4 separate regions of the Homo sapiens genome follow, and all the other regions are linked to region 1. The links come from fine-mapping of genetic effects on gene expression. A gene starts in region 1. Each other region holds a variant in brackets. All regions are shown on one strand. Distances are from middle to middle. Region 1 holds the start of FURIN (furin, paired basic amino acid cleaving enzyme). Region 2 has its middle 38 kb from the start of FURIN. Region 3 overlaps BLM (BLM RecQ like helicase). Region 4 overlaps BLM (BLM RecQ like helicase).

The links.
Region 2: its variant is fine-mapped to the expression of FURIN in whole blood (INTERVAL, PIP 0.97).
Region 3: its variant is fine-mapped to the expression of FURIN in blood mononuclear cells (TOPMed, PIP above 0.99). The same link has a PIP of 0.9 or more in monocytes and whole blood.
Region 4: its variant is fine-mapped to the expression of FURIN in whole blood (TOPMed, PIP 0.97).

Annotation. Positions count from the first base shown.
Region 1 is chr15:90,864,687-90,872,897 of GRCh38, forward strand. FURIN (furin, paired basic amino acid cleaving enzyme) reads left to right here and starts at 3,902. Exons shown (of 16, transcript NM_002569.4): 1 at 3,902-4,025. RefSeq lists enhancers at 4,434-5,633, 4,876-4,925, 4,993-5,287, 5,026-5,135, 5,073-5,367 and 2 more and silencers at 6,644-6,853, 6,894-7,533.
Region 2 is chr15:90,826,427-90,834,637 of GRCh38, forward strand. No RefSeq gene overlaps it. Among named protein-coding and RNA genes, the nearest start is that of FURIN, 38 kb to the right of the region's middle. RefSeq lists an enhancer at 3,664-3,753. The variant A/G (reference allele first, on the strand shown) is at 3,842.
Region 3 is chr15:90,804,839-90,812,838 of GRCh38, forward strand. BLM (BLM RecQ like helicase) reads left to right here. Exons shown (of 22, transcript NM_000057.4): 20 at 4,299-4,421; 21 at 6,367-6,568. Among named protein-coding and RNA genes, the nearest start is that of FURIN, 60 kb to the right of the region's middle. The variant G/A (reference allele first, on the strand shown) is at 3,862.
Region 4 is chr15:90,792,103-90,800,102 of GRCh38, forward strand. It overlaps BLM (BLM RecQ like helicase), which reads left to right. Exons shown (of 22, transcript NM_000057.4): 16 at 2,065-2,255; 17 at 6,088-6,235. Among named protein-coding and RNA genes, the nearest start is that of FURIN, 72 kb to the right of the region's middle. The variant C/T (reference allele first, on the strand shown) is at 4,590.

The DNA.
Region 1 (8,211 bases):
TACCACCTGCTCACTGGTTTGTAAGTCATTCAGGGGCTGGGCGCTTATAGAGTCACTCAAGGCGGTGACTCACACCTGTAATCCCAGCACTCTGGGAGGCCGAGGCAGGTGGTTCACTTGAAGTCAGGAGTTTGAGACCAGCCTGGCCAACGTAGCAAATGAAAACCCGTCTCTACTAAAAATACAAAAAATTAGCTGGGCGTGGTAGCACATGCCTCTAATCCCAGCTACTCGGGGAGGCTGAGGCAGAGGCTGCAGTGAGCTGAGACCGCACCACTGCACTCCAGCCTGGGTGACAAGAGTGACACTGTCTCAAAAAAAAAAAAAGTCACTGGACTCCCCCAAGCCAGTCCCCTACATTTCACATCAGGAGGGTCACCTATGGTGCCTCCTGCGTCGGGCTGTGGTGGGTTCCCACACGAACCCCCATATCTCTACTCCCCATGGTAGTCAGAGGAGCCTTTAAAAAGGGTAAATTTGCCGGGCACGGTGGCTCACGCCTGTAATCCCAGCACCTCTGGAGGGGGAGGCAGGAGGATTGCTTGAGGCCAGTCTGGGCAACAGAGTGAGAGCCCATCTTTTAAATTAAATTTAAAAATATAAAAATAAAATGGCTGGGCGCGGTGGCTCACGCCTGTAATCCCAGCACTTTGGGAGGCTGAGGCAGGTGGACTGACTGAGGTCAGGAGTTCGAGACCAGTCTGGCCAACATGGTGAAACCCTGTCTCTACTAAAAATACAAAAAAATTAGCCGGGTGTGGTGGTGTGTGCCTGTAATCCCAGCTACTCGGGAGGCTGAGGCAGGGGAATTGCTTGAGCCAGGGAGGTGGAGGTTGCAGTGAGCCGAGATTGCGCCACTGCACTCCAGCCTGGACGACAGAGCAAGACTCCATCTCTAAATAAATAAATAAATAATTTTTATTAAAGGGTAAATCAGTCAAATTTCCAAAAGAATTTTGAGAATCCAGAGCCCATTGCTCTGATAATTAAATTCAACATCTGGACCCAGCTTGGCAAGTGCTCTGTGATCCAGCCCGTTACCTACCTCTCATCTCATCTCTCGGCCATGCTCCAAGAAGTGTCTGCTCCCCAAGTGCATAAGCTCATGCCCCCAGGCCCATGTCCTTGCCTCTCCCTCTGCCTGGGACACTCTTCCTCCAGATCTTTACACTTTTGCCTCTTTTTTCAGCCTCAGCTCAAACATCACCTCCTCCCAGAGGTCTTCCCTGACCACCCCAGGGATAGCAGCCCTCCCGCTTCCCCAGGCACTCCCACATTACCTTCTTTATCATTTTCTTCCAGAGCTCTTAGGATGATCTGAACTTCTCTCATAAACTGGCTTATTCACCTGTGAACTGCCTGCTTCCCTCGCTATAACTGAAGCACTGGAAGAGGTCCTGCACCCAGCAGGCACTCAATGAGTATCTGAGGAATGAGTGAATGAAATGCCCAGTGCACAATCAACCTCCACAAAAGCAGTTTTTCTTTTCACATATAACTCATCGCTATCACAGCCCCTCTCCTTGCTCACCCGCCTCGCTGAGGGGCTCCTGAGAACCTCCGTAGAGGTCTCCATCAGCCAAAAAGCATCTGCACCGTCAGAGAGGGCCCCTCACTGCCGCTCGCAGTGCTCCCTGCTGCCACGTGCAGCCCCTTGAGCATGAGCCTGTTGACACAGGTTGGCACACGGTGTCTGGCTTCTGTAAATGCTCTCTGCTCCCAGGTGTGCCGTGCCCCATTGAAGGACAGCACTCACACTCCTCCAGGTATTAACTGACTTTTTCCCCAGCAATGTTTGTTTTAGGGATTAAAGTTTGTGGAGGAGCCTATAATTTCCAGACTCATCTGTTCCTTTCCTGGCAGCCAGCACATTTGTCATTCTATTTTTCCCAAGTCCCTGATAATACCGTTCCAGACATGTTGATTTGATGGCATCAGTCAACGGAAAGACTCTCTGGGGCCTGCCGTAGGCCAGAGGACAGGCTCTCCGGGCCACACTCAGGGGCGACTGAGCCAACTCTTCACGCCATTCCTTTCCTTCCCTGCCTAGGACGACCTTACAGCCCATGATCGCTTTTCTTCTTCTTCTTCTGTTTGTTTTTTCTTCCTGTTTTCTTTTTAAGTACTACAGTGACCCCTTATTTATTCAGCAAAGAAATGGACTACTCCACAGTAGTGAATTTTCAAAATAATGCCCTTCAAGCACTAAAACTTTAAACAACACATCTTCAAAACAGCTTTGCTGAGGTATAACTGACACACTATAAACGGCATGGATTTAAAGTGTACAACTTGATATGTTTTGATATATGGACACACCCATGAAACCATCACCACAATCAAGATAATGAACATGTCCATCATTCCCAAAAGTTTCCTCCCGCCCCTCCCTGCCCCCTTCCCCAAGCAAGCACTGATCTGTTTTCCAAATACGTCTTTAATGCTACAAGGGCTCACACACCTCCCCACCTTAGAAAATGGAGTATGATCAACATGATTGATCCTTTCCTTGATTCAGCATTATCACCAACACGATGGAAAGTGATCTCAGATGTCATGAGGATGCATGATTGTTTGCCCTGATCACTAAACGGCCCATTGTTGTGCTGGCATACTGGGCAGTTTCAAGTTTGGGAGTTTTCTCCCTCACTGCTAGCTGTCTCAGAGCTTAGTTCCCAGCAGACAACTCTTGCTGCCTCGAACCCTGGCACACTAACCACCATCCTGTGACGTTCCCACTCCTCATTCTGCGACAGTGGTTCTTTGCTGGGAGAGATTTTTGTCTCCCAAGGGACATTTGGCAATACCTGGAGATCTTTTTGGTTGTCATCATGGGAGCGGGAATGCTACTAGCAGCTAATGTTTAGTGACTAGGGATGCGACTGAACATCCTGCAATGTAGAGTGCAGTGTCCCCTACAGAGAATTATCCGACCCAAGATGTTGATAATGCCAAGGTTGAGAAACCCTGTTCAGGATGACAAACTGATTGAAAACTCAACAAGGGGACCGGGCGTGGTGGCTCACGCCTAATAATCCCAGCACTTAGGGAGGCCGAGGTGGGTGTATCACTTAAGGTCAGGAGTGCGAGACCAGCCTGGCCAACATGGCAAAACCCCATCTCTACTAAAAATACAAAAAAAAAAAAAAAAAATACGAGTGGCGTAAGCCTGTAATCCCAGCTACTTGGGAGGCTGAAGCATGAGAATCGCCTGAACCCAGAAGGCAGAGGTTGCAGTGAGCTGTGATCAGGCCATTGCATTCCAGCCTGGGCAACAGAGCGAGACTCTTGTCTAGAAAAAAAAAAAACAAACCCATAAAACAAACAAACAAAAAAAACTATGAGGATTGAGTGATTCACATTTCTGAATCGAGAGAGAGAAGGATGGGCAGCAGGCTTGTTGAAGCTGGAAGGCCAGGGAGGTCGCAGACTGAGGAAGACCCTGGTGTGTCCCAGGTACCTCCATGCAACCCTACTAGAGAGGTGGTCTCTGGCTTCCTATGGACAAGCTCTAAGGGACCCAGCTATGGGGCACCAGAGCCCAGCGTTCAGCAGCTGCTCAATGAATGTCTGCCAGGCGAGACTGCACCCAAAGCATTTATTAGGTACATAATTGTGGCAGCACTGGCTGGCCATGGAAGGCAAGGCAGAACACAAGGAGCTGGAGCTGGCGGAAGGAAGTCATTAAGTCAGCCAGTGGCTGGGATGCAGCAAAGCCAGGCAGAAGGTAAGTGCAGACCCACCCCAATAAATGAGGAAAATGAGAAGGGCTGGCTGGCCATGTTAGGATCCAGTTCCAGTGCGACCAGATATGTCACCACCACATCACTTTTAGCTCCTCCCCCCACCCACAGACACCCTGTTTGCCTGTCATATAAAGAAGGTTTTCCCAAAGTGGTTTAGCCAGAACTGGAAGGGCCCCGCCCTGTGAAGGGATAGGAGCCTGACTGTTGCAGCTGCAGTGAGTGGCGGGGAAGCAGCAGCGGCCAGGATGAATCCCAGGTGCTCTGGAGCTGGATGGTGAAGTATGGACATGCTTTATTCGATTTTGCATTGACTTAAAGGTTTAATTATTTTAGGAGTTCTTGTAGACATTCCTGAAAAATGCAGGTAGGCAAAAAGAAGAAAACAAAGATCGCAAATGTGACCCTTTCATTCGGAGAGAACACCAATGGAATTTTGTTGTGCACCCTTCTATGCACGTCTGAATGTTGTGTAGACATTCTGCTTACAACTAGGTGTGGGTGCTGCTGCCGAAGGCTTTATTTGCTGTGCCTGAGGTGGACCAGAGATTTCAGAGAAGACTCCCAGAGCACCCCAAGGAGACAACAGGAGTGCTTGGAGTCAGGATGACTGGGTGGATTTAGGACTATGTGATTCTCAGGAGCCTCTCTGGATTAGCCCCAAATCAAGGATAAAGAGAGGCCTAGCTGGACTCTTCCTCCCAGAGCCCTGCTGGGAAAATGGAGCCCCTTTACAGCCCCCACTTACCCATCAGGCCCTGCTCCTCTCACTCATCTCCAGACTTCTGTCACATGCCCAAGTCCTGCTAACTGCTGTGTAAAACTGGTAAGGTGGGATCCAGAGGACCTTGGGCCCCTAGGGCCCCAGGTCAGGAGACCTGGGCTCCAGGGCCAGTTGAGAGTGATAAAGAGAACAATACCTGCCCACAGGACTTGTTGCAATGAGATAAAGGCAGAAGTCACCAGTTGTGGTCAAATGGGATTTTTTTCCAGAGAAGTCTCACAGAGAGTGGCTTTCAAATTCTTTTTAGCAGCAGAATTGTTGTAAAATACAATCTCATGTGAAACCCTAAAATGTGAGACACTCTGGGTGAAGCAGAGAGAGGTGCTCAACTGCCCAATCCTGTCCTCATTCCTCCCTCTCAGGGAGGCACCTCTGAGAACCCACTTTAAAGAATTTTGCCTTATGCAGATTGAAGAGGCAAGCTGGCTGGAAGAAACTGGGAAGCTCCACTTCCCACCGCCTCTGCCTGGGTGGCAGTCATCTGAGCCTAGGCTAGCCCCTCCCCCTCCAAAGACCCACTGCGGGCTCCCCTGGGGCCAGTCTCCAGGATGGGTGGGGCACCTGAAGCAGCAAGTATTGCTATTTTTCTGGGCTGACCTTTCTTCTAGGCCTGAGGACAAGTGGGTAGGTGGGGCCAGCCCTGTCCCTGTTTCCCCTCAATGGAGTTCTCTTGCTCACAGCCTAAGGAAGAAGCGTGAGTCACTTCCTGCCTCAGTCTGACTGCTGGAGTATTGTTCTCCCAACTGTGGCTGGCGCTACCCAGTGTGGCCCCTACAAGTCTTAGTTCCTTGGCGGAGGGGAAGTCCCCACTTTGGGACAAGGCCAACTGGACTTATCTTCCCGCTCAACTTTGAGGACCCAGCATTGTTCCTCCAGTTTCCAGTTCTTGCAGTGTTTGTAAAGGTGCCCGAATCGTACCTGATCCCATTCACTAAATATTATCTCCATTTTATAGAGGGGTAAATTGAGGAAGTCCCTGAGAAATTAACTTGTCTAAGGTGTCCCAGCAAAAAATAGTGCCCCAGGGATTTGAACCGGTTTGCTGATTGATTTTTCACCAGTTGCCTTAAGAATTATCATGATTTAACCTCTCTGGGCCTCAGTTTCCTCCTCTATAAAATGCAGACAGTGATACATCAAAGGTACTTAAAGGAAAATGTACTGTACCCACCTCATGGGGCATGTGGTGAGGATAAAACGGGTTGACACAGGAAAAGAGCTCTCAATGGTGCCTGGCTCATAGAAAACACTCAGTGGATTTTTTTTTTCCCATTACCCGGGAACCTGTGTTAAGGAGGCCACAGGCTGATCCTGTGCAGCCAGGTTATCTCACAGGGAGCGAGAAGAGATGGGCACAGGCTACTCTGCGACCTTGGAATAACCCAGCCTGGGAAGCTCCTGGCCACATTTTCCTTCTTTTCTTTCTCAGCTCAAGCAGCGTCGGCCTCAGCCAAGTAGCACAAACGTTTTCTAGGGCCCAGGGAGGGAGAGGCTCCGGCTGGTATATTGCAAGTAGCTTGGATTCAGGCTCTGCCAAACACCCCAGTCTCTTGCAGGATCTGAGGTCTGCTGGTTGTGGGACTTTGCGCAAATTATTTAAACGTTGTGCGCCTCAGTTTCCTTATCTGTAAAATGGGATTAATAATCTCAGCCTGAAAGGATTATGTGGATTAAATCATGTACATAAGAAGGAGATAATGTAAAGTGACTGGCCTGGTGCCTGGCAAGCGGTTGGTGTCTAAAAAGAAAAAAAAGCTAAAAATATTAAAAGGAGGTGGGCTACTTCTGCTCATATATCCACCTGTCTATACAAATGCAGACGAAGTCGTGACTCCTCTAACAGTAGGCCAAGAGGAGGCTGGTCCTGCCGCCGTGCAGTCCTCCCTCGACCTGGGAGTGGAGGACCCCAGGTCCGCCGTCCCTGGGCACTTAACCCGGTCAGGCTCAAATTCGTCGCCCAGGAGTGGGGAAGCGGGGGACGGAGAGGGCCAGTCCCCCAAGAGTCCGGCTGAGGCAGGGCTCGGAGTGCCTCCCCCAAGCCTTTCCCTTTGGTTCCGAGTTCGGGTCTCCGCGGCCGTCTTCCCGGGGAGCTCGCGGGGCGAAGAGCCGAGCCCGGGGGCGGGGGCACGGCAGCGGGGCCTGAGGGACGCGCCGGGCGGCCGCGAGGACTTTGGGATCGCCTGCCCCACTTCCTACCTGCCCCTACCAGGAGCCGGAGGCAGCGGGCGCCCCAGAAGGCCCCGCAGGGCCGCCGCGCGGGGCCGGACGCGCTGGGGCCCACGGCGCTGGGAACGCGGGCCCGCAGTCGGGCCCGGGCGGCATGGGCGGCCGAGGGGCGCCCGAGCCGCCGCGGCGGTCGCCTGGAAAAGTTTCCCCGCCAGGGCTCCCCAGGGTAAGTAGCGAGGGCGCGGGGCCCGGGGCCCGGGGAAGGCAAGCGCGTCTGGGAGCCGGGCCCGAGGGGAGCCGGCCGGGCCGGGCCGTGGAGCTCTGCCCCAGGAGCGGGCTCCGCGGCCCGGGTGCTCGGGCCGGGGAGGGTCGGGGCACTGGCGCCGGTGCAGCCCTGACCCGGGTCCCCCGGGGCCCGGCTGCCCGCCGGCTTTCCGGAACTGGCCCCGGGGCCGGCCCCGAGGGTGGAGCTGCCGGGAGCAGACAGGGCGCTCCGCAGCCCACCTGAGCGCGCCGGGCCCGTCTCGGCCCCCCGGCCGTGGCTGGTACTTTTCCGCGTGGGGCCAGGGCGAGCCCTCTGACCTCAGGAAGCGCCTGCGGGGCCCCTGCTGGGGGCGGGATGGGGAGAAAATTCCGCAGGCGCCGGGTGCTCCAGCCTCCCCGCCGCCACCGGGGCTGCCGCCGGCTCGCCCACTCCGCGGCCGAGGAGGGCCTGCGTTCCGCCCGGGGAGGGGAGGAGCGGCCGGGGGCGAGGCGGGGGCTCCTTCGCTTGGGCCTCGCCCCCGCCCGCACACCTGTGCGGCCAGGACTCGGGTGCGGGATCCGCGGGCGCCGGCGGCCGGCGCAGGTAGGTCCCTGGGCTGCCTTCTGCCGCGGCCTGGCCGAGGCCCCTGTGCCCCCGCTGTGTGGCTGGACCAAGGGGCGGCCTGCTTGCCAGACAGGTCTGACGGCAGTCACTTGTCTGGTCAGAACCCGCTTTCCCATCATCCTCTACCCCCTGGCCCCTGGGGTGCAGACCCTCATCCACCGGAGAGTGTTGGGATTCCTATTCTGACTTGGGAAGTGCGAGGAGAACCCGGGTGATATGGCCTGGTGAGGGCGGGTGCTGAGCAGGTGTGGACACAGCATAGGAGATTAGCCAAGCCTGACCTCTTCTCAAGCAGGGCAGCCCTCGTTTTACTATTTCCTATATTGGGCTTCTACGGAGCATTTGATTTTTAAAAAGGATTCTGTGGCTTTTTAAAAAGTTTGAAAGCCGCTGGTCCAGCAGTTTTTACCACCAAGGAAACTGAGGCCCAGGGAGAGGAAGTGACTTGTTAAGATCATCCAGCAAATAGTGGGCAGGGACTGGGAGCGATAAATTCACGGGAGCCTCCCAGGGCTGGTAACAGGACCCCGCGTGGTGTCTCTGCTAGAGGGAGAGACTGATTGGGTGTCCGAGTGGCCCTCCCGTGGCCTGCTCTGTGGCTGTGTCAGAGCCAGACCCCCAGTGTCTGGGAAACAGCAGTCGGTCCTGGG
Region 2 (8,211 bases), 38 kb before region 1:
TTGCCTTACACACTATGCAAGCTTTGCTGTTTGCAGTAAAACTGGCTGCTGCTTGCTCTTTGGGTCCACACTGACTTTATGAGCTGTAGCACTCACCATGAAGGTTTGTAGCTTTACTCTTGAAGCCAGTGAGATTAAAAACCCACCGGGAGGAACAAACAACTCCAGTACGCGCCGCCTTAGGAGCTGTAACACTCACGGCGAAGGTCTGCAGCTTCACTCCTGAGCCAGCCGCACCACGAACCTATCAGAAGGAAGAAACTCCGAACACATCCGAACGTCAGGAACAAACTCCGGCCACGCCGCCTTTAAGAACTGTAGAACTCGCTACAGCACTCACCGTGAAGGTCTGCGATTTCATTCTTGAAGTCAGTGAGACCAAGAACCCACCAAGTCCGGACACAATGGGACCTGTATGCAGTCTATGGGGCAGTTCAGACCAAAGGGCTGGGCGTGGCACCACAGCTGCCCCGAGCCCTTGGCCTCTCTGAGCTTTTCTCTCTCACCTGAGAAATGGGATTTCAAGGAAAATGAGTAGCGGTAACTTACCCACCTTACTCCACGGTTACTGTGAAGCGCCCAGAAGAGAAGCCATGGATGTGGGCGACGCATTCGAGGTTAGCTTCAGAAGCAGCGGGCGCTGGGTAGCCACATTGACACCCGGTACTAGCGCTTCCTCCTGGGGGTTCCTGGGTCCAAGGGGGTTGTGGCAGTCCTTGCCACAGAGATGCAGAGTCTGCAATGTCCAAATGTGCTTCGTGTGCAGTGGGAGCCTGGCAAGCTGTAACCCTTGTCGTGATTCACGCGTCCCAGGGACACTTGGGGGCCGCTGTGGGCAACCCCCCACACCCCGCTTTTGGTCAGGGCTGTGCCAGCAGAAGGCTGGGGCTGGACAATAGAGGGGATGTTGGGGCCGGGTGGGAGGCGGGAAAGGAGAAGGAGGGAAGTTTAGCAAGGAAAGAGCAGAAACGTCCCAGAGAAATTAAATTTCAGTTTTGTGGTGAACAGCTGGATCCTTTTTCCCATATCCTCACCAAAAAATTCCAATACTATCTTTGTCACCTTGTGTCATGGATCTATTTTGAGCTCTCTCGCGGTTCCTGAGCTCCTGTGTTTAGAGTGCACCAGGCTCTGCCTTCCGGGTTCAAGTCATTTTTTTTTTTGAGATGGAGTCTCGCTCTGTCGTCCCAGGCTGGAGTGCAGTGGCATGATATCGGCTCACTGCAACCTCCGCCTCCCGGGTTCAAGTGATTCTCCTGCCTCAGCCTCTCAAGTAGCTGGGATTACAGGTGCACGCCACCACGCCTGGCTGATTTTTGTATTTTTAGTAGAGGTGGGGGTTTCACTGTGTTGTCCAGGCTGGTCTCAAACTCCTGGCCTCAAATGATCCACCCAGCTAGGCCTCCTAAAGTGCTGGGATTACAGGTGTGAGCCACCGCGCCCGGCCTTGCGATTTTTGTATCTCAGCTCAGCTCTTCACACGAATTCATCCTCACAACCGCAGGGGATTCGGAGGGGTCCAGTAATTTTTCCCTTTTCACAGCCAAAGCAGCTGAATCACCAAGGCCATGAAACGAATGAGGATCTGCCTGATGTTCACCAGGCTGGCCCCTCCAGATCACTGCAAAGTGGGGCAAGATGAGAACAGCGCCAGGGGTTGATGACACCCAGGGCGCCCCAGCAGGACATCCTGGCCCAACTGCCCTCCAGGGTCCCGGTCAGAGGGCCAAGCTTTGCTGCTAGTCATGGCCCAAGTAGCCTGTAGCTTCTTCCCCGGATGGATGTGGGATCCTCCCAGAAAGGCCTGACCCGACCTAATCCCAGTCTCCCCACCTTTTCTGATACTGCTTCCTTACCTGGACCTCTCCACCCGCTGCCCGGCCCACACTCACCACTGGGCTCAGCTCTGCTGGGACACTGCTGCCTGGACCGTGCGTGGATGGGGGCGGGGCGGGGACGAGGGGAGGTGGAGAGGTCACTGCTCCTGGGAGGGCTGGGAGTGGCAGTGAGCCGTTGGTCTGGCCATTCTCCCTCCGTGAGGTTCAAGATCAAAAGTTCCCATGGGAAGGCCACAACCATTTCTTCTGTGAGGCCCGGAAATGATAATGGGTTCCTCATACTAAAAGACTTTCCTGGCCAGGTGCGGCGGCTCGCGCCTATAATCCCAGCACTTGGGGAGGCCGAGGCCGGCGGATCACTAGAGATCAGGAGTTAGAGACCAGCCTGGCCAACATGGTGAAACCTTATCTCTACTAAAAATACAAAATTAGCCGAGCGTGGTGGTACATGCCTGTAGTCCCAGCTACTCGAGAGGCTGAGGCACGCGAATTGCTTGAACCCAGGAAGTGGAGGTTGCAGCAAACCGAGATCATGCCACTGCACTCCAGCCTGGGGGACAGAGTGAACTCTGTCTCAAAAAAAAATATTAAAATTTAGCCTGGTGCAGTGGCTTATGCCTATAATCTCAGCACTTTGGGAGGCCGAGGTGGGCAGATCACGAGGTCAGGGGATCGAGAACATTCTTGCTAACATGGTGAAACCCTTTCTCTACTAAAAATAGAAAAAATTAGCAGGGTGTTGTGGCACATGCCTGTAGTCCCAGCTACTTGGGAAACTGAGGCAGGAGAATCACTTGAACCCAGAAGGTGGAGGTTGCAGTGAGCTGAGATTGCGCCACTGCACTCCAGCCTGGGCGACAGAGCAAGACTCCGTCTTAAAAAAAAAAAAATTAAAATTAAATTTTTAAGACCTTCCTGCTCCCTGAAGTGGGCCACCCTGATCCCAGCCCCCAGGTCTGGAGTCACCATTTCCAGTTCTTCAAACCTGCCTGTTGCCGACATGCTGGGTGACCTTGGGCAAGTCACTTCGCCTCTCTGTGCCTCGAGGCCTCACCAATAGAATGACCCTCACTGGAAGCTGATAATCAAGTCCGCCCACCCACTTGGACATTCCAGGACTGTTCAATTTCAGTGCCATATAGACTTACATAAGCAGGGCTGCATTTCTTTAATTTGAGTAAAATGCAAATGCTCCTGGTGGATGAGTCTGCACTTCTCAACCCCAAGCCTGCTCAGGTGCATCACTTGGGCGGGAGGGAGAGGTCCCACCCAGACCCACGGACCTCTGCTCTTGGGGTGGACAGGCCCTGGAGATTGGCATTTTGCAGAGCCTCCTGAGGAGGGGAGTTCAGACTTTAGAAGGCAGAATGAGGGGCGAACTCCCCAACCCCAATACCTGACCACATGCACAACAATGACAAATTTTTGGGAAAAGAGTGAGCCAACAGGCCAAGGTGGGTGGATCACCTGAGGTCAGGAATCCAAGACCATCCTGGCAAACATGGTGAAACCCCATCTCTACTAAAAATACAAAAATGAGCTGGCTGTGATGGTACGCTTGTGGTCCCAGCTACTCAGGAGGCTGAGGCAGGAGAATTGCTTGCACCCAGGAGGCGGAGGTTGCAGTGAGCCGAGATCTTGCCACTGCACTCCAGTCTGGGTGACAGAGTGAGAAGGGACCTCCAAGGCTATCGTGTTCAGCTGCTGGGGTGAGGAGTAGGGCAGAAGGCTGGGCACAGGATGTTTAGGGGATGACAGGACAGAGAAGACCTGTGGCCCCCAGCAGGGTGGCCTCAGCCGGGGGGACTTTCCCACCCACCTCTGCGCACTCAGGCTACCCAACTGAAAACAATGCAGCCTCAAAACTGCCCTTCTTCGGGGAAGACAGGAAGGTTCCCGTAGCAGAACAAGTAAAACGTCAGGAGTTAGCTAACCGAGCAAGATGAAAAAAACTTGCAACGCCTCCCTACACGCAAGTGCCAGGAAAGGGAAGGAAATCACAC[A/G]GGGGCACAGCTGAAAGCCAGCAGAGCCAAGGACCTGAGTGGCTTTCTTGGAACTGATAGCTTCGCGCTAGACAAAAGTGAATGAGAATATGAACCAGGTATAAAAAGCACGAGCCGGGTGCAGTGGTGCGCGCCTGTCAGGCCCACCTGCTAGGGGGGCCAAGTGGGAGGATCACTTGAGCCCAGGGGTTTGAGACCAGCCTGGGCAACCTTGTGAAGCCCCATTTCTTAAAAAAAAAAAAAAAAGTTGAATGAAAAGAGCACAAAGAAGAGATGACAGGCCAGGCACGGTGGCTCACGCCTGTAATCCCAACACTTTGGGAGGCCAAGGCGGACAGATCACCTGAGGCCAGGAGTTTGAGACCATCCTGGCCAACATGGTGAAACCCTGTTTCTACTAAAAATACAAAAATTAGGCGGGTGTGGTGGCGGGCGCCTGTAATCCCAGCTACTCAGGAGGCTGAGGCAGGAGAATGGTGTGAACCCAGGAGGCAGAGGTTGCAGTGAGCCAAGATTGCACCACTGCACTCCAGCCTTGGTGACAGAGCGAGACTCTGTCTCAAAGAAAAGAAAAAAAGGAGAGATGACAAAAAAAATATATATATCAGGAAATGCAAAGAAACTGCAGAGGGGAGGAAACGCATTAACCAAAACAGGACCATGACACATCTAAAAACAGAGTTACAACATAGTACATGCATCTGAAAAGCAAGGGAATAGTGTGGGAGAGAAACTTGAAATAATTGCAGTGAATTTAGAGAAAAAGACAAATTAAAACAATTAGAGAGAAAATGACCATTATGGGTCCCAGACCTTCCAACATCAGGGTGACTGCACTCCCTGAAGTAGATTATCCAACAACTGAAACAAAAAGCTATTTAGAGAAAGTCTTCCTGAAACGAAGAACCAACTCTACAGACTGCGAGGGCATGACTACTCCAGGGAAGCAAATTCACAATGACCAACATAGGAACATACTGGCTGAGTTAGTGAACTTTTTTTTTTTTTTTTTTCAAGACAGAGTTTCGCTCTTGTTGCCAGGCTGGAGTGCAATGGCAAGATCTCAGCTCACCACCACCTCTGCCTCCCCGATTCAAGCGATTCTCCTGCCTCAGCCTCCCGAGTAGCTGGGATTACAAGCATGTGCCACCATGCCCAGCTATTTTTGTATTTTTAGCAGAGACAGGGTTTCTCCATGTTGGTCAGGCAGGTTTCGAACTCCCGACCTCAGGTGATCAGCCCGCCTCGGCCTCCCAAAGTGCTAGGATTACAGGCATGTGCCACTGCGCCCGGCCAAGTTACTGAACTTTAAGGATAAAGAAAAAACTCTTCAGGCACCTGGACAAAATGTCATTAAAGAATGGAATGGAAGGCCGGGTGTGGTGGCTTAAGCCTGTAATCCCAGCACTTTGGGAGGTTGAGGCGGGCAGATCACCTGAGGTCAGGAGTTCAAGACCAGCCTGACCAACATGGAGAAACCCCCTCTCTACTAAAAATGCAAAATTAGCCGGGCGTGGTGGCGCATGCCTGTAATCCTAGCTACTGAGGAGGCTGAGGCAGGAGAATCGCTTGAACCCCAGAGGCAGGGGTTGCCGTGAGCGGAGATCGCGCCATTGCACTCCAGCCTGGGCAAGAAGAGCAAAACTCCATCTCAAAAATAAATAAATACATTAAAAATAAAAATACAAAAATTATCCAGGCGTGGTGGTGCATGCCTGTAATTCCAGCTACTTGGGAGGCTGAGGCAGGAGAATCACTTGAACCCGGGAGGCAGAGGTTGCAGTGAACCAAGATCACACCACTGCACTCCAGGCTGGGCAACAAGAGCAAAACTCTGCTTCAAAAAAAAAAAAAAAAAAAAAGAATGGAATGGAATCTATTTCAATTTCATTATAAGGCTAAATGCTGATAGCCAGGCATGGTGGCTCATGCCTGTAATCCCAACATTTTGAGAGGCCAGGATGGGTGGATCACTTGAGCTCAGGAGTTTGAGACCAGCCTGGACAACATGGCGAAACTCTGTGTACAAAAATACAAAAATTAGCCAGGCATGATGGCCAGTGCCTGTAATCCCAGCTACTGGGGTGGTTGAGTAGGGAGAATCACTTGAATCCGGGAGGCAGAGGTTAGAGTAAGCTGAGATCACACCATTGCACTCCAGCCTGAGCGACAGAGCAAGACCCCATCTCAAAAAAAAAAAAAAAAAAAAGGCGGCCAGACATGGTGGCTCACGCCTATAATTCCAGCACTTTGGGAGGCTGAGGTGGGTGGATTACTGGAGGTCAGGAGTTCAAGACCAGCCTGGCCAACATGGTGAAACCCCATCTCTACTAAAAATACAAAATTAGCTGGGCGTGGTGGCGTGCGCCTGTAATCTCAGCTACTCAGGAGGCTGAAGCAAGAGAATCACTTGAACCCGGGAGGCAGAAGTTGCAGGCAGAAAGAGTGAAACTCCTTCTCAAAAAAGAAAAAAAAAAAGACTAAATACTGGGAGAATTATGGTTTTAAAGTAAAAGTGTTACAAACCTTGACAAAATCTGAGCGTGGTGGCTCACACCTGTAATCCCAGCACTTTGGGAGGCCAAGGCAGGTGGATCACCTGAGGTCAGGAGTTTGAGACCAGACTGAACCTGGGAGGCAGAGGTTGCAGTGAGCTGAGATCACGCCACTGCACTCCAGCCTGGGTGACAGAGCTAGACTCTGTCTCAAAAATAAATAAATAAAATAAAATAAAAATAAAAATAAATAAACCTTGACAAAGTAAAAATATCAGCATCAAAATCAGAGCTGGGGTGGGCAAGAGGAAGAGGGAGGATGTTTGAGGGGAGTGGTCGCCTTTTTTATCGCAAGAAATGACTGATCTTGCTCAAAGTGAAACATCTGAGTTTTTACCCCAAGACTCCAATGTCTTAATTAATTTCATAATCTTTTTTCTTAACCATGAGGAATTCATTATGAAGTAATAGCTCTTGTGGAAAGTAAATATTTATCTAAGATTCAGCAAGTTTTCTGGGTTTTTTTGCCTTTTTTTTTTTTTTTTTTCAGATACAGGGTCTCACTCTGTTGCCCAGATTGGAGTGCAGTGGCACAATCATGGCTCACTGCAGCTCTGAACTTCTGGGCTTAAGTGATCCTTCCGCCTCAGCCTCCTGAGTAGCTAGGATTACAGGCGGCACATGTTCCCACACCCAGCTAGTTTGTCTGTTTGTTTGTTTGTTTGTTTGTTTGTTTCGAGATGGAGTCTGGCTCTGTCACCCAGGCTGGAGTCCAGTGGCACAATCTCGGCTCACCGCAACCTCCGCCTCCCGGGTTCAAGCGATTCTTCTGCTTCAGCCTCCTGAGTAGCTGGGACTACAGGTGCGCACCACCATGCCCAGCTAATTTTTTGTATTTTTAGTGGAGACGGGGTTTCACCATATTGGCCAGGCTGGTCTCGAACTCCCGACCTCGTGATCTGCCTGGCTCGGCCTCCCAAAGTGCCGGGATTACAGGTGTGAACCACCACACGCAGCTGACACCCAGCTAGTTTTTAAAAATTTTTTTGTAGAGACAGGGGTCTCACTATGTTGCCCAGGCTGGTCTCAAGCTCCTGGGATCCTCTCACCTTGTTCTCCCAAAGTGCTGGGATTACAGGTGTGAACCATAGCACCTGATCTGCCTTTTTTTTTTTTTCTGTTAAACTCAAGTAAAATAGAATATATTTAGTTTAAAATAGAACTGGTACGGTGCAATCTAATCTAAAATTGTTTGGACTTACCTTTCTCTGAACTGCAGGGGCAGAAGGAGGGTGATCCCTTTTCTCCCCATGTAAAGGGTCATGACCGGCACCTCTATTACAAAAATCAAGTTAACAAGAGAAAAAAGAACAGGCTTATTACATGCACATGAGACATGCAAAATATGAACTCAAAGAGGGGCCAGAAGGTTGAGGAGAGGAAAAATGGAGAAATGAATAGGCTCAGTGCTCAGACAGTGGTTAGCAAATGACTGGGAGCTGAGTGGGACAAGTTATGGGAAGGTGAGGGCGGAACTGCAAAGGAACAAAAGTTGGATTTGTTTGTTTGTTTGTTCGTTCTGAGACAGAGTTTCACTCTTGTTGCCCAGGCTGGAGTGCAATGGTGCGATCTCGGCTCACTGCAACCTCCGCCTCCCAGGTTCAAGCAATTCTCTTGCCTCAGCCTCCCGAGTAGCTGGAACTACAGGCACGTGCCACCATTCTCGGCTAATTTTTTGTATTTTCAGTAGAGATGGGGTTTCACCATGTTGGCCAGGCTTGTCTCAAACACTCTTTACCTCAGGTGATCCACTCGCCTCGGCCTCCCAAAGTGCTGGGATTACAGGCATGAGCCACTGCGCCCGGCCGAGACAAC
Region 3 (8,000 bases), 60 kb before region 1:
TTTTTGTTTGTTTTTGAGACGGAGTTTCACTCTTATTGCCCAGGCTGGAGTGCAGTGGCGCGATCTCAGCTCATCACAACCTCCGCCTCCCAGGTTCAAGCGATTCTTCTGCCTCAGCCTCCCAAGTAGCTGGGATTACAGGCATGTGCCACCACGCCCGGCTAATTGTGTATTTTTAGTAGAGACAGGGTTTCTCCACGTTGGTCAGGCTGGTCTCAAACTCCCAACCTCAGGTGATCCACCCACCTCGGCCTCCCAAAGTGCTGGGATTATAGGCGTGAGCCACCATGCGCGGCCGAAACTTATTCTTTTTTTTTTAAGGACATCTGAAGACCATTGAATATTAAACTCATTCTTAAGATAAAATATGTTCTTTAACATATATATAGTACTTTGTTATATATGGTATAATGGTACCCTATGTATGTTATATATGGTATAATTTTAATTATAGCTCTGTGCCTATATGAAAAATACATATAATCAAAGTAAATGGTGGGTGCATGCCTGTAATCCCAGCTACTCGGGAGGTTGAGGCAGGAAAGTAGCCTGAACCCAGGAGGCAGAAGTTGCAGATATTTGTATATAACACAGCTAAACACTATAAGGCAGGCAAATAATCGGCACAAATAATGAAGTGATGTCTGGTTTTAGAAATTACAATGATCTGGCCGGACACGGTGGCTCACGCCTGTAATCACAGCACTTTGGGAGGCCAAGGCAGGTGGATCATGAGGTCAGGAGTTCAAGACCAGCCTGCCCAAGATGGCAAAACCCGTCTCTACTAAAAATACAAAAAATCAGCCAGGTGTGGTGGTGGGTGCCTGTAATCCCAGCTACTTGGGAGACTGAGGCAGGAGAATCACTTGAACCCGCGAGGCAGGGTTTCACCATGTTGGCCAGGCTAGTCTCGAACTCCTGACCTCAGGTTATCCCCCTGCCTCAGCCTCCCAAAGTGCTGGGATTACAGGCATGAGCCACCGCATCCGGCCGGATTATTGTAATTTCTAAAACGAGACATTACTTCATTATTTGTGCTGATTATTTGCCTGCTTTGTAGTGTTTAGCTGTGTTATGTACAAATATCTGCAACCTCCGCCTCCTGGGTTCAAACGATTCTCCTGCCTCAACCTCCCGAGTAGCTGGGATTACAGGCATGCGCCCACCATTTACTTTGATTATATGTATTTTTCATATAGGCACAGAGCTGTGGATAATAAAAATCAATGTCCAAATCAGTAAAAAAAATTCTTTCAATAAAAGCACTGTGTCATAGTTTAATTAGCAGAATTTTTTCTTCCTTAATAGTCCATAAAATAACAGTATCTTAATATAGTTGGCATCTTAGATCCAATGAAATATTGTAATGACCAATTGTAATATTGTAATGGGCTGGGGGCCGTGGCTCACGCCTGTAATCCCTGCACTTTGGGAGGCTGAGGTGGACGGATTGCCTGAGGTCAGGAGTTCGAGACTAGCCTGGCCAACATGGTAAAACCCCGTCTCTACTAAGAATACAAAAATTAGCCAGGCGTGGTGGCGGGCGCTTGTAATCCCGGCTACTTGGGAACCTGAGGCAGGAGAATTGGTTGAACCCAGGAGGTGGAGGTTGCAGTGAGCCAAGATCGTGCCACTGCCCTCCAGCCTGGGCGACAGAGCGAGACTCCATCTCAAAAAAAAAAAAAAAAAAAGTCTGCAATGAAGAGCTAGTTTCCTTATGAAGAGATTATGTTTTATGCTTCTTTGAATCTGGATCTAGCACACTGCTATGTCTTTAGTTAATAAATACTTACTGGTCTGAGTTATTTCCATGGGCAGATAGCCCAACCCAGAATTTCAGTAGTAGAGTTCCTGGAAAACAACGTCTTCATATAGTTGGCCAGCTGGGCTATATTACCTTCCATATTCTTCTTCATAAAATCTCATAATCATCACCTTCTCTCTTCTTCATTCCCTCTCCTACGATAATCGGTCATTACAATATTTCACTGACTCTAAGATGCCAACTATATTAAGATACTGTTACTTTATGGACTATTAAGGAAGAAAAAATTCTGCTAATTAAACTATGACACAGTGCTTTTATTGAAAAAATTGTGTTTTACTGATTTAGACATTGATTTTTATTATCCACAGCTGTGTGCCTGTATGAAAAATACATATAATCAAATTACCGTAGGTACTTATAAAAGTTCACATTCAAAGCCTGACTCTTCTGAGTCACTTTTTGACTGAGTCGTCCATGTCTTTGTTTTTCCCTATGTCATCACTAACATTCTCATTAGCCATAAGGCATTTCCAGAGTGTTCCACTATTTTCCCCAGGATTTAATCGAAATCTCTGTTATCAGTTCTGTTTTGAAGGTGGTGGTTTCTTGATGATACCAGAAGGTGTCAACAGAAGGTTGTACATCTCTCAGTAACAAAAATGTAGTGCGGCCTCATCTACTTTGGGCATCTTCTTTCTTAGGTCACGTAAAGCACTTGGTTGTACTTGCGAGAAACTATGGAATTGGGGGCCTGTGTCCTCAGAGACAAATAGTGCCTGGGTTTTTTTTGTTTTGCTTTGTTTTGTTTTTTTGGAGATAAGATCTTATTCTGTCGCCCAGGCTGGGTGCAGTGGTTGAACACAGCTCACTGCAGCCTAGACCTCCTGGGCTCAAGTGATCCTCCTACCCCAGCTTCCTGAGTAGCTGGAACTACAGGCATGTACCACCATGCTTGGCTAGCTTTTTTATTTTTTTGCAGAGACAGGGCCTCACTGTTACCCAGACTGGTCTCATACTCTTAGGCTGAAGCAATCCGCCCTGTCTCAGCCTCCCAAAGTATTGGGATTACAGGCATGAGCTACCACGCTCAGCCAGATAGTGCTTTTCTTAATACCAAATGTATTCCCTGCTACTCTGTTTCAGAACTTTTCTGCATTCACAATCACTTTTTTAATGCTAATCACAGTATAGTCTTTTTGAAGACATGTCATGGCAGTTAGACTCAATACATGAGGTACAAACAGTGCAGTGACTTTGTTGACATGCTGACAGTACTAATAGCTATGACTAAGTTCTCACAAGCATGAGCAGTAACAACCGCAAGGCAGCTGCCATTTAGCCATCAGCAGTTCTAAGACATATCTTGACCTCAGGAATGCTAAATTGTGAAAAGGTGTGTGTCTTAGAATTGATGAAATTTGGTATTTTATGATATGTTATTTCTAGGCGATTAGTGTAGTTTCTTAACTGTCCTCCTTACCTCCAGCTGTGAATGTGATGTACATTTTAATCTTTCAAAACCTAGTAAAACTACAACAGCTTCCCAGATAAAGTATACATTTTATCAAGGGTCTACATTTCTTCCTGCCTCTCCTACTTTATCTTTCATTAAACCCCCTTCATAAACCTTCTGTTCTGTCCACAGTCTCTTGCTTTTCCTCTAAACATGGGAATGATGTGAAAATCACAGATGGGAAAGGATTTGAAATCCACTCTTTGCTCAGCTCAAATACATAGGAATGGTTACTCCCTCACTACCCAGAGCCAGTGCATCAGTCAGTCCTACAGAGCCAGCCTCCAAAACTCACCCAAGCTTGCTTCACTGTGTCTCCACTACTGCATTCCAGTTCACTCCATCCTCACTCGCTCCTGCAATGGCTTCCACCAGGCTCCCGGATTCTACTCTTTCCTTTACAGTCAAGTTCTTAAACAGCAGCCAGGGTGGCCTTTAAATGACAGGCTTGTCTAGCTGCAAGACTGATATGCGACCTCTATGCAGAGGACTCAGCTGGCTGCTTGTTGCCTCAACCCACATGGGGAAAGAGTGGAGGAAGAAAAGTTTGTGCTGGAGGAAGTAACAATTTGGTTATGCC[G/A]TCTAGGGTGGGGTGTACAAGTCTGGAGTGCAGAGAAGAGGCTGGAGCTGGAAATAGAAATGCAGCGTTCTCAGTAAAGAGAGGGCACACCAGTCTCAGCTAGATGAGTACTGGCCATGGGAACAGTGGGCAAGAGCAGATCTGCTCCACTCCACGCACATGGCACAGGTCCCACCCTCAGCTTCCTCCTGCCCTGGCTCTTGCCCTTGCTCTGCCCTGGCCTATGCCGCTGGAATTGGATGGTGGGTTCCTGCCCTCTGTGCCTGTCTGCTGCCTCTGAGGTGCTAACTTTGCCTTTTACAAAATTGGCCTGTGTTCCCAGTACCCTGCAGTTAGTTGGCACTTAGCAGACGTGTGCTGAATGCGTGAATGAGCCTGAATTCAGTGGGTTTTCTATGGGTGATAATTTAAATTCCTAATTTTATGCCTTTGCACAGAATCTTTATCTTCTGATCCTGAGGTTTTGCTTCAAATTGATGGTGTTACTGAAGACAAACTGGAAAAATATGGTGCGGAAGTGATTTCAGTATTACAGAAATACTCTGAATGGACATCGCCAGGTTAGTACACAGCCATGTGTGTTCTCTAAAAGCCTGTTTAATGTGAAGCGACGCGTCTCACTGAATTAGAAGGATGCAGTTGTGTGAATGCTTCCTACACCTCGTCACACTGACATCCAAGTCAGCCCCCAGTGGTGTGCCAGTCACCTCTGAGAGGACACTAGTGCTTATGCCCCCTGTGAGTGCCAGTTCTGAACTTACTCATAGGATCCAAAAGGGGACCTTTGGGCCCAGGGGTTGCTGGTTCCCGTAATGCAAGTGCTCAAGGGATCAGAGCCCTGGGTACCAGTTCCAGATCTGCCACCACGTCATGCTGTGTGGTCTCTAGCAGGCCACCAATAGCCTCTTTGTGAATCAGGTTCCTCCACCAAGGAAGGAACATGTTATCTGACAAACATGTCTAAAGATAAAATTTAAGACTAGTGTTTAAATGTTTTGGAGAAATGAGCATGCAGCTAGAATGTTATTATTGTTAGTCATTGATAGAACCTGCCTGAGTGCATCATTATCAGACGTTCCCGGAGTCACGTTAGGCCTGTCCTGTGGCACTTCTAATCATGAGCTTCATCATCATTACAGCTTTAGAAATCATTGACCTGGGGGAAATGAGAACAACAAAGCATTTTGTTGTAGGAAATATTGAGAGCACAGAAGTCTTCTGCCCTCTGATAACATCACCACGTAATAGGACACAACAGACAGGCCCGGTTCAGTGTTCTTCCTGCTTCCAGACAGGCAGTGTGGGGGTCTTCCCAAGGATGATGGAAATGATGAGCAGGATGAGATAGTTCAAGTTCTCTCTTTACCTAGTCGCTTTTTTTTTTTTTGACAGAGTCTCACTCCAGGCTGGAGTTCAGTGGCACAATCTTGGCTCACTATGCCTCCCAGATTCAAGCAATTATCCCACCTCAGCCTCCCCAGTAGCTGAGACTACAGGCATGCACCACCACACCTGACTTATTTTTGTATTTTTTTGGTAGAGTTGGGGTTTCACTATGTTGGCCAGGCTGGTCTTGAACTTACGACCTCAAGTGATCCACCTGCCTCAGCCTCCTGAAGTGCTGGGGTTACAGGCATGAGCCACCACACCTGGTCAGGTTCTCCTAAATTCTTCTATATGGTAATTAGTCCATTAAAAGCCTTGTTCCGAATACATTTTGACAGTGAGCCAGGGTTGGAGCAGCCATGGTGGAGTCCTGTGCCCTCCATGCTGCTCCTGTAGGGTGGCCTGTAGGACAAGGCAGACCAGCCAGGAAATGGAGACTGGGTCCCCGTGTGAGCTATCTATAGGGAGGTTTCATGCTTTTTGGGTGCCTTGGGATGCAAATACTTATGGAAATTACCATCTTCTTTGCAAATGTGTGCTTTCATGCGGTCTCACCTCCCGCATAATATGTGACATGTTCAGCCATATTGTGCAAAGACAAGTTTTTTTGTCTGTAAAGAGTAAAATAGGATCTAGAATTTTCTTATGTTCATTTACTAAGAAACTATTGTTCAAAGATGAGATACAGGACCGTTTGTTTCCCTTATATTGAGCTGATTTTTTCAGCACATTTAAAATAAGTAAAATTGCCTGCCATCTTTATAGCAGTTGATACTTTTTGAATTGCCTACCAGAACTAACTGCCCAATCAACAACAGGAACACAGGCCATATGCGACAGTATGAGCTAAACCTCATGTCTCTAGTTAACTTCAAGACTATCACAAATTTTTTTAATGAATTCTGATTCTCTTTTGTTAAAAATGAATTGCCATTGAACACTTTGGGGCTTTGTGCAGTAAAAAAAGGTTTGGTTCTTGCTGAATTGTTGAATCCATATGGCAGGGAAGCAGCTAGGTATCTGCTAAAATGGGCCCCTGCAGCGTGTCTCTTCATATACACTAAAAACACGTGGACCAGTGCGACATCACCTGTAAACATCTGCATTTTCCATTTGTAGCTGAAGACAGTTCCCCAGGGATAAGCCTGTCCAGCAGCAGAGGCCCCGGAAGAAGTGCCGCTGAGGAGCTCGACGAGGAAATACCCGTATCTTCCCACTACTTTGCAAGTAAAACCAGAAATGAAAGGAAGAGGAAAAAGATGCCAGCCTCCCAAAGGTCTAAGAGGAGAAAAACTGCTTCCAGTGGTTCCAAGGCAAAGGGGTATGTTTTGTGACATCTTTTTCAATATAGGGAACAAGGGAAGAAAGGACAAAAGTGCAACAGCTCTGCCTTGCTTTGAAGGATTTATTAAAATAAGCCATTATTAAATATTGCTAATGGAATGACAGTTGTTAATGGAGTGACAATTAAGGTTTGATCCAAAACAAAAATATTTGCTTCAAGAAACAACAAAAAATATTTGCTTCAGATGTTTAAAACATCTACTGACTAATAGTTATGACTAAAGTTTTCTTTCTTTTTTTAATTTGAGGACAAAGTCTGACTCTGTTGCCCAGGCTAGAGTGCAGTGGCACAATCTCGGCTCACTGCAACCTCTGCCTCCTGTACTCAAGTGATCCTCCCACCTCAGCCTCCTGAGTAGCTGGGACTCCAGGTGTATACCATCACTCCTGGCTAATTTTTGTATTTTTTGTACAGATGGAGTTTCCCCATGTTGCCCAGGCTGGTCTCAAACTCCTGAGCTCAAGTGATCAGCCCACTTTGGTCTCCCCAAAGTGCTGGATTACAGACGTGAGCCACCGCACTCAGCCTGACTAATGTTTCTTGTTTGCAAAGATGTCTTCCATGTTGATCTTCCCTTAGATATTTGTTTGCCTGTTTGGGATGATTGTTCTTCTTAAGAGACTTTTCCACCTACAATACTATAAATCATACACTAGCTGAATAAATAACAAAGGGTTTTGTGTCCTCGTGGCTTTTACTATTCTGTCAGTACTTGCTCCGCTGCTTTTATTGCTGCAGAATCCCATGGATCTCCACCTTGAAGCACGTGCACACTCCCTGCCTTTCATTAACACCTGGGAGAATCGACCTCCCAGCCTTTGCAGGGGTAGCAAGAAGAAGCCACAACAGAGAAACCAAAAGTTCAGTCAAGCCAGGCCTCTTTAGGGGTTGCGTAAATGGCTTCTGTCTTCCCCTTCCCATGTTTTCCTGGGCCGCTCGTCTGGGACATGTCTGTTCTGGGCGCTTTCTGCACACCAGGGGAACAACAAAGACAGCATGGTCTGATATGTGTGATGATCTTGGCAGTTTCCTTCTTTCTTCATAATTGCATTGTTTCTGACAGCCGCTTTTTGATTTTCTGCCAGGGCACCCTCTGCCTTCTGGCTAGTAGGTTAGGCCTGGCAGGAGGGAGACCATTCCATCAGTCTTGAGAACTTGACCCCAAAGTAACTGTATATTGTAACAGAGTTGCTTGCAGAAAAAAGAAACCAAAAAAAAGTCCACAGTCAACTTTTGCAAGCTGTTGTGTTTTCTTTTGCAGTTTTTCTACCTCTTGTCCTTCTGAGTAATAAAAAACAAGAACTGAGTGGGGAAAGAGAAAGGAAGGCAGACATTACCAAATTGTCATTTTCTTGTTAAGTCCATAAACAAAATCTTGTATGTGCTAATCCTCCTGCCAGAGTACCGA
Region 4 (8,000 bases), 73 kb before region 1:
TTTTTTGAGACGGAGTCTCGCTCTTGTTGCCTAGGCTGAAGTGCAAAGGCTGGAATGCAATGGCACGATCTCGGCCCACTGCAACCTCTGCCTCCCAGATGCAAGCAGTTCTCCTGCCTCAGCCTCCTGAGTAGCTGGGATTACAGGCTCCCACCACCACACCCAGCTAATTTTTGTATTTTTAGTAGAGACAGGGTTTCACCATGTTGGCCAGGCTGGTCTTGAACTCCTGACCTCCAGTGATCTGTCCGCCTCAGCCTCCCAAAGTTCTGGGATTACAGGCGTGAGCCACTATGCCCAGCCGAGACCACTTTTAAATTAACTCTGGCAGAAGTACAGTGCATAGGAAATGGCACTTACCAAGCACTGTGCCCAACACTGCATATATCACCTCATTACCTTATTTGTTCAAAACAACTAACTTGTGATGTAGAGGTACTCCCATAAAAAGTGAGCTTCGGAAAGGTTTTGTAACTTTTCCCCAGGATCACTGATATGGCAGGAGCAATAAGAGTCGTTGTAGTAGTAGTATAACAATGGTAATTATTATAGATAAGTGTTTATTTAGCCCTTCCTATGTGCCATTCTAAATGCCTTACATGTATCATCAACTAATTTCATCTTCACAATAACCCTCAGAGATAAAACCTTTGCTTTCCTCATTTTACAGAGGAGGAAAATGAAATGCAGAACTAGTAAATGGTAGAGCCCTGACAGAACCCAAGTTCGTCTGATTCCAAAGTCCATGTTCCTTGCACTATACCAAAGTGATTCTCAGTGAAGAAAATTAAATATTTACACTTGGTTTGCCCATTTGTGTTTTTTTTAAAATCTATATTAAAGCTAGGCCCAAACATGGCCAGGCATGGTGGCTCACACCTGTAATCCCAGCACTTTGGGAGGCCGAGGCCAAAAAAAAAAAAAATTTAGGCCCAAACAATTTAATAGATATTTAAGTCCTGATAGCAGCAACTATTTGGGGGAAAAATACTCATAAACTGGAAGAAAAAAATAATATTTTTTAAAAATTATTTTCTTTTTTTTTTTTTTGAGACGGAGTTGCGCTTTTGTCACCCAGGCTGGAGTGTGATGGCACGATCTCAGCTCACTACAACCTCCACCTCCTGGGTTCAAGCGATTCTCAGCCTCAGCCTCCCGACTAGCAGGGATTACAGGCTCGCACCACCACACCCAGCTAATTTTTGTATTCTTAGCAGAGACAGGGTTTTGCCATGTTGGCCAGGCTGGTCTCAAGCTCCCGACCTCAGGTGATCCGCCCACCTTGGCCTCCCAAAGTGCTAGGATTACAGGCGTGAGCCACCGTACCTGGTGTTAAAATTCTTAAGTAACAACAGTTGCTTACTGATGGAAAGTATGCCACTGCTGTTCTCACACATTGGAATCAAATCCGACACTGCCACCCTCATTTCCTGTTTCACATTGATTTTCTTGAGATACTTCTTTTTATCATAGCAACTGCGAAAAACCCAGCTTTGCAAAGATGAGATATTGCTAATAGGAATGTAGCACAATCTAATGTTAATACCATTAACTACCTCAAGCTAATAATTTGGGTGATGTTCAACAGATGTTAGGCATTGCTGTGTTTCCCTTCATGTAAAATATTCTGTCTCTGTGAGTTCACCACAGCACCCCCGGGCTTGTTGGCACACAATTTTGGAACCACTGGTGTAACTACTTTGACCTCAGATACTCAGAGAAGTGCATGGCCACTGCCGTAATCTCAGGCTCTGCTTCCTCAGGATGTTCAGTTCGGTGGATGCTCGACTGATAAATACAGCAAATATAAGTCAAACCATCATCATTGGGGATAATGAAGATTTGAAAAAAAAAAACCTAACATTTATTCCTATAGTACTAAAATCTTGAGGATGAACATTAATACTCAGTTAATTATAATATAGAATGCCATGTTGACAATGCTGTTAACAGTAATTTTCTTATTTAATATTTAAAGTTATATGAATCTATTCTAAATATTTCTATGATATGCTCTATTTTTCCCCTATAAGTATGTCTTACTATAGTCTTCATCTCTTTTAGTGGAAAAAGATGGAAACCATCATACAAGAGAAACTCACTTCAATAATTTGTATAGCATGGTACATTACTGTGAAAATATAACGGAATGCAGGAGAATACAGCTTTTGGCCTACTTTGGTGAAAATGGATTTAATCCTGATTTTTGTAAGAAACACCCAGATGTTTCTTGTGATAATTGCTGTAAAACAAAGGTAAAAAAAGAAGTTTTAAAATTCTTTATAATTAAATTTTTTTTCTCTTACTTTAAAAATGTAGATACAAATTAGATTGCAAAAGGTGGTCTCCGACAGATTAACAGGGGAAAGACAGCTTCCTTCCAGTAGTAATTTGGAATGGAAACATTTAAAAAGTAATTTCATGCGGTATCTTTTCTTTATAATTAGAACCCTGTTAAAAAATATAATGGACATCAGCATATCCAGAATATTGAGTTTATATATGTGCACTGATGATTACAGAATATTTTAGAAATATTAATATGCAAACATCCAAAAAGATCCAACATGGGCAGGTAGAATATTTTAAATTTAATATATTAATGTTATTAATATAATACATTATATTAAAAATTTAATTGATTAAATTAAATATATTAAAATTGACGTATTAATATTTAATATTTTAAATATTTAATTAATATACTAAAAATCTCATTCTCAAAAGAGTAATAACTAGTGTACCGTATGTTTGAATTCAAATCAATTACATTACTCTTTTTTTTTAACTATAAAGAATAACAGTAACTGCTTGTGGATAAATTCACTATTATCTGTCCTAAAATACCCTTGGAAGGTTGTTAAATTCAGTCATTAGGTACTTATTTTACCTATCTTGGTAATTCTACATTTTAATGTCTACTGTAACCTACTGCTTACTGAGCATTTTCACGTTTGGTGTATTATTTACCTATCTGGGAGTATTAGACTTATATGTGCAAGATGCTGGAGAGCCACAAGTGACCATGGTATGGACCAATTCATAGACTGGAGTGGAGACCGACATACATGTGTTCATAGAAGTTTAACACTCTGGCTTGGCGCAGTGGCTCATGCCTGTAATCCCAGCACTTTGGGAGGCCGAGGCAGGAGGATCACCTGAGGTCAAGAGTTCAAGACCAGCTTGACCAACATGGTGAAACCTTGTCTCTACTAAAAAAATACAAAATTGGTCGGCTGTGGTGGCCCATGCCTGTAATCCCAGCTACTTGGGAAGCTGAGGCAGGAGAATCGCTTGAACCTGGTAGGTGGAGGCTGCAGTGAGCCAAGATCATGCCATTGCACTCCAGCCTGGGCAACAAGAGCGAAACTCCATCAAAAAAAAAAAAGTTTAGTACTCTCAGTAAGTATAGTTAAAAAATACAGAGCACAGGGCAGAACAGAGGGTAGTCTCTCTCAGTGTGGAACTGGCAAATTCATGCCATCTCCTCCCACCCCACCCCATCCCTTAAACATTGCTATCAGTTCCCTCATTCAACAGATATTTGTTGGGCTGTGTAACAGGCACTGTTGTAGGAATTTGGGATACATCACTAAACAAAATGAAAATCCCTGCCCTTGTGGAGCTTACACTCTAGCAGAGGGAGGCCAGTTACAAACAATATACACAATAAATATACATGAAAGGATAAGAGCTGTGGTGAATGGCACAGCAGAGTAAAAAGACAGGAGGAATGGGTAGAGTGCAGGATGCAGTATTAGACGGGGTGGTCCTTGGAAGTCTAACTGAGAAGATGGGAGCTGAGGAAAATCTTGAAGAAGGGAGTTAGCTGGCAGCTCCCTGGATGTGAGCTTTCCTGCAAGAAGCTTTGGCTAGAGCAAAGGCCCTAAGGTGGGGGTGTGCCTGGTGTGTTCGAGAGATGGCAAGGGAGCCCATGTGGCTGAGCAGGATTAAGAGCCAGTGAGGGGAAGAGGTGATGGAGAGCCAGAGCAGTCAGTTGAGGGCTAGAGTCCCAGAGTAACTGGAGGCCTGAGTAACTGGAAGGATGGAGTTATCCTTGGCTAAGATGCAGAAGGCTGGTTGGCAGAGAAGATCAGGAGTTTGGTTTGGGTTACCTAAATTGGGAATCTAATATTGAATTACATATTAAGATTCAAAAATTCTGAAAACAGACTGGTGGCACATGGGTGATATTTAAAGCATGGCCATCAGCTGACAGTCGGGATAAGAGAAGGGACGGAAGAGAAAGGAGAAAGTATGAAATAGTTGTCTAGGACAGGGGTCAGTAAACTTGCTTTTAAAGGGCCACAGCATAAATATTGTACACTTCGCAGCCATAGTCTCTGTCACAACGACTCACAGCTTTGCCATTGTAGTCTAAATGCAGACATAAATAATAAATACACCAATTTTCTAGTCATCTTCCATGGCTGTGTTCCAATAAAACTTTATGCACAAAAACAGGCATCCAGCTCCTGGGCCATAGTTTGCTGACTTCTGTTGTGAGAGAATGGAGGAATGATAGGCTAGGGAAGTATAAAGATAATGATTGCCTACAGCATTAACAGTCCATTCGAGCTTTGTGGCCA[C/T]GTAGTGACAGTGAAAATGCCAAGTTCAGCCACATAGGTACAGGGACCTATGGAGATGGAGAATTGGATCCATTATGTTTTGCCAGGTAATATGTTGAAGTGATCTAAGGGCAAGAGAGCTGAGGGTCTATGAGAGGTAGTGATTATAATGATCGACTGGAATTTCAGCTGAGTTAGGAGGACATCTGAGGTTGAGGATCAGCAGATGGGCATTCCCAGGGGATTGTTGGAGTCAGAATACCACATGGTATGAGTTGGAAAGATAGGATGTGGTGGTCTGAGAATGGAGGAGTTGCCATTATTAGTAAGCTTAAGGTAGGAAGTGTGAGCGGCTGATGTATGTGGAGGACAGGATCATTGGAGCAGAGGAGATCAAGAACCAAAAGACCAAAGTAAGAGGATCAGCTCTGTATACCTAATCACCAAGAATTAAGGTAGATGGCCAGGTGCAGTGGCTCACACCTGTAATCCCAGCACTTTGGGAGGCTGAGGCCGGCGGATCACCTGAGGTCAGGAGTTAAAGACTAGCCTGGCCAACGTGGTGAAACCCCATCTCTACTAAAAATACAGACAAATTAGTCGGGCATGGTGGCAGGTGCCTGTAACCCCAGCTACTCAGGAGGCTGAGGCAGGAGAATCGCTTGAACCTGGGAGGTGGAGGTTGCAGGGAGCCAAGATTGCGCCATCGCACTCCAGCCTGGGCGACGAGCGAAACTCCATCTCAAAAAAAAAAAAAAAAAAAAAAAAAAAAAAATTAAGATAGGAATGGAGTGACAGGGCACTTTTTCTTGATGACTCTAGATAGGGCCTCAGAATCACTTGCAGTTGTTAGTGTAAGACCAGAAACCTGTTCATCTCCAGGTTATTGGTGTGTGCAAATGACAAGGATTAGAAGGTAGGGAGGGCTGCATACACAGAAGCACCAAGCATGATGCAGCTTTTTACACCTGTGAGTGGTCAGTATTGATGGTAGAGAGAACTAGGGGAGAGAAAGGCAAAAAGTCATCTAGTAACGGGGACTCTAAAAAGTGGGCAAAGTTTGGGGATAGCTGAAGGAAATGAGAAAGGAAACTAGCAGGAGATGATGAAAAGAGCGTTGACTATGGCACCAAAGACCCCAGAGGGGTTAGAATCCGTGGATTTACGTGGCACCCCACAGGTTCCCACCCAGTATGTAACAGAGCACTATTCTAGGAGGCATGGAGGATTTAAATTGTGTGTTTGTGTGTGTGTCTGTGTGTTATATATGTGTTTCTACCCACAGAGTGCTATCAGGTAGTTGAAAGACAAGACGTATCTCTGTGAAACAGTAACAACATCGAGTGGTAGTTGTTCTAGAACTTAGATAAGAATGAACATTTGAAATTTCCGTAGGTTTTGGTCTCGGTATTGGTCTGGAAATGGGTTATGATGAATCTACTATAGTTAATATTAAACCCTAGTAATCTAGGCATTGTTACCTTAATTATAGCAGAAAGTATTCTCTTTTTATTCATAGGATTATAAAACAAGAGATGTGACTGACGATGTGAAAAGTATTGTAAGATTTGTTCAAGAACATAGTTCATCACAAGGAATGAGAAATATAAAACATGTAGGTCCTTCTGGAAGATTTACTATGAATATGCTGGTCGACATTTTCTTGGGTAAGTCATCTGTTTTGAATGTTTGAGTTACTTCAATTGAAATTGAACATCTAAAGAATTTATTACAAGTACATAGAAAAACTTTTTGTCTATTTTCTTATAAAACTTGAGTTTCTGAATAAAACTTTTAAGTAACAAAAGAAAGTCAATTATTATACTGTTTTATATAATGTATATGTCACTAAGTTGAGATGGTTTCACATACAAAGAAGAAAATAATAAAGCTTATGCGAGTTCATCTGAGTGGGTGGAATGTAACTATTAAAATGTCAGTAAGGAAATAAAATGAGGATTAGACCCATAACAGCATAGAGAATAGGAGAGAGACTATTATCAGATTAGTGCCTTAAAAATCTCTCAGGGGCTGAGCACAGTGGCTCACACCTGTAATCCCAGCACTTTGGGAGGCCGAGGCGGGCGGATCACCTGAGATCAGGAGTTTGAGATCAGCCTGGCCAACATGGTGAAACCCTGTCTCTACTAAAAATACAAAAAATTAGCCAGGCATGGTGGCATGCACCTGTAATCCCAGCTACTCGGGAGGCTGAGGCAGGAGAATCGCTAGAACCCGGGAAGTGAAGACTGCAGTGAGCTGAGATCGCACCATTGCACTCCAGCCTGGGCAACAAGAGTGAAACTGTGTCTCAAAAATAATAAATAAACAAACACACACAAAAATTAGCCAGGTGTGGTGGTGGGCACCTGTAATCCCAGCTACTCGGGAGGCTGAGGCAGGAGAATCGCTTGAACCTGGGAGGTGGAGGTTGCAGTGAGCCGAGGTCACGCCACTGCACTCCAGCCTGGCAACAGAGTGAGACTCCATCTCAAAAAAAGAAAGAAATGGACAGTAAAGAGGAAGACCAAATAAATAGAATATTTGACCCTGGGTGATAGAAATAATTGAAAATAGTAGTTTGGGAGAGAGGGGAGAGAAGACTCCTTAGTATCGTCTTAAAGAGTTTTTAAAATAAATACTTAAATAATAATTGAATAATGGAAAAGAAATAAAAATGAGAAAGAGCTGTCAATTTTAAATGATTGACAAAGTAAATTTAGTGGAGAGGTTGGAAAATAAAGTCAAGAAAATTTAGGAACTGATCAAAATGATATATGGAAAATAGAGAAAGCATAGAAAGGATTAATCCTCAGTAGATGTAAAATCTGACAAAAATTTTGGAAATAGAAAATAAAGGGAATTATCAAACCAATGATCTAGGAAAACTTCCTAGAGTGGAAGAGATAAAAGTTTTGGATTAAAATGCTCACTGAATGCCAAATAAGATGCCTGTAAAAAAAAAAAAAAAAAAAAAAAAATTAAGACATATGGCCACGAGATTTGAGAATACTAAGAGTTAAAGACATGTCAAAGAGGAAAAACTTTTCCTCAACCCTCTTAGGTTCAGTGATGGGGCCTGCAAATTAAACCAACAAAAAACAGATTAGCAAGGGAAAAGACAGATTTAGTCATGTGTGGATAGGAGTTCACAGAAAAATGTGGTTCAAAGGGGCAGTTAGAATGTGGGGCTTATATACCATCTTAATAGAGGAAGGGGAGAAGGAGGGGGGCACTTATGGAAAAACAAATGACTGTTAGGAAAGACAGATGGACTGTTAGGAGACCAGATGGGAGATACAAAGTTTTTATGACAATGTCTGTTTAAGTGTGGTGTGAAGTCTTATCTCTGTTTAAAAGGGTCAGCCTTCCCTGGTTTTTCCCAGGGAGGCAATTTATGACAACTGAGTTCTTTTGGGAGGCCCTGCTTTT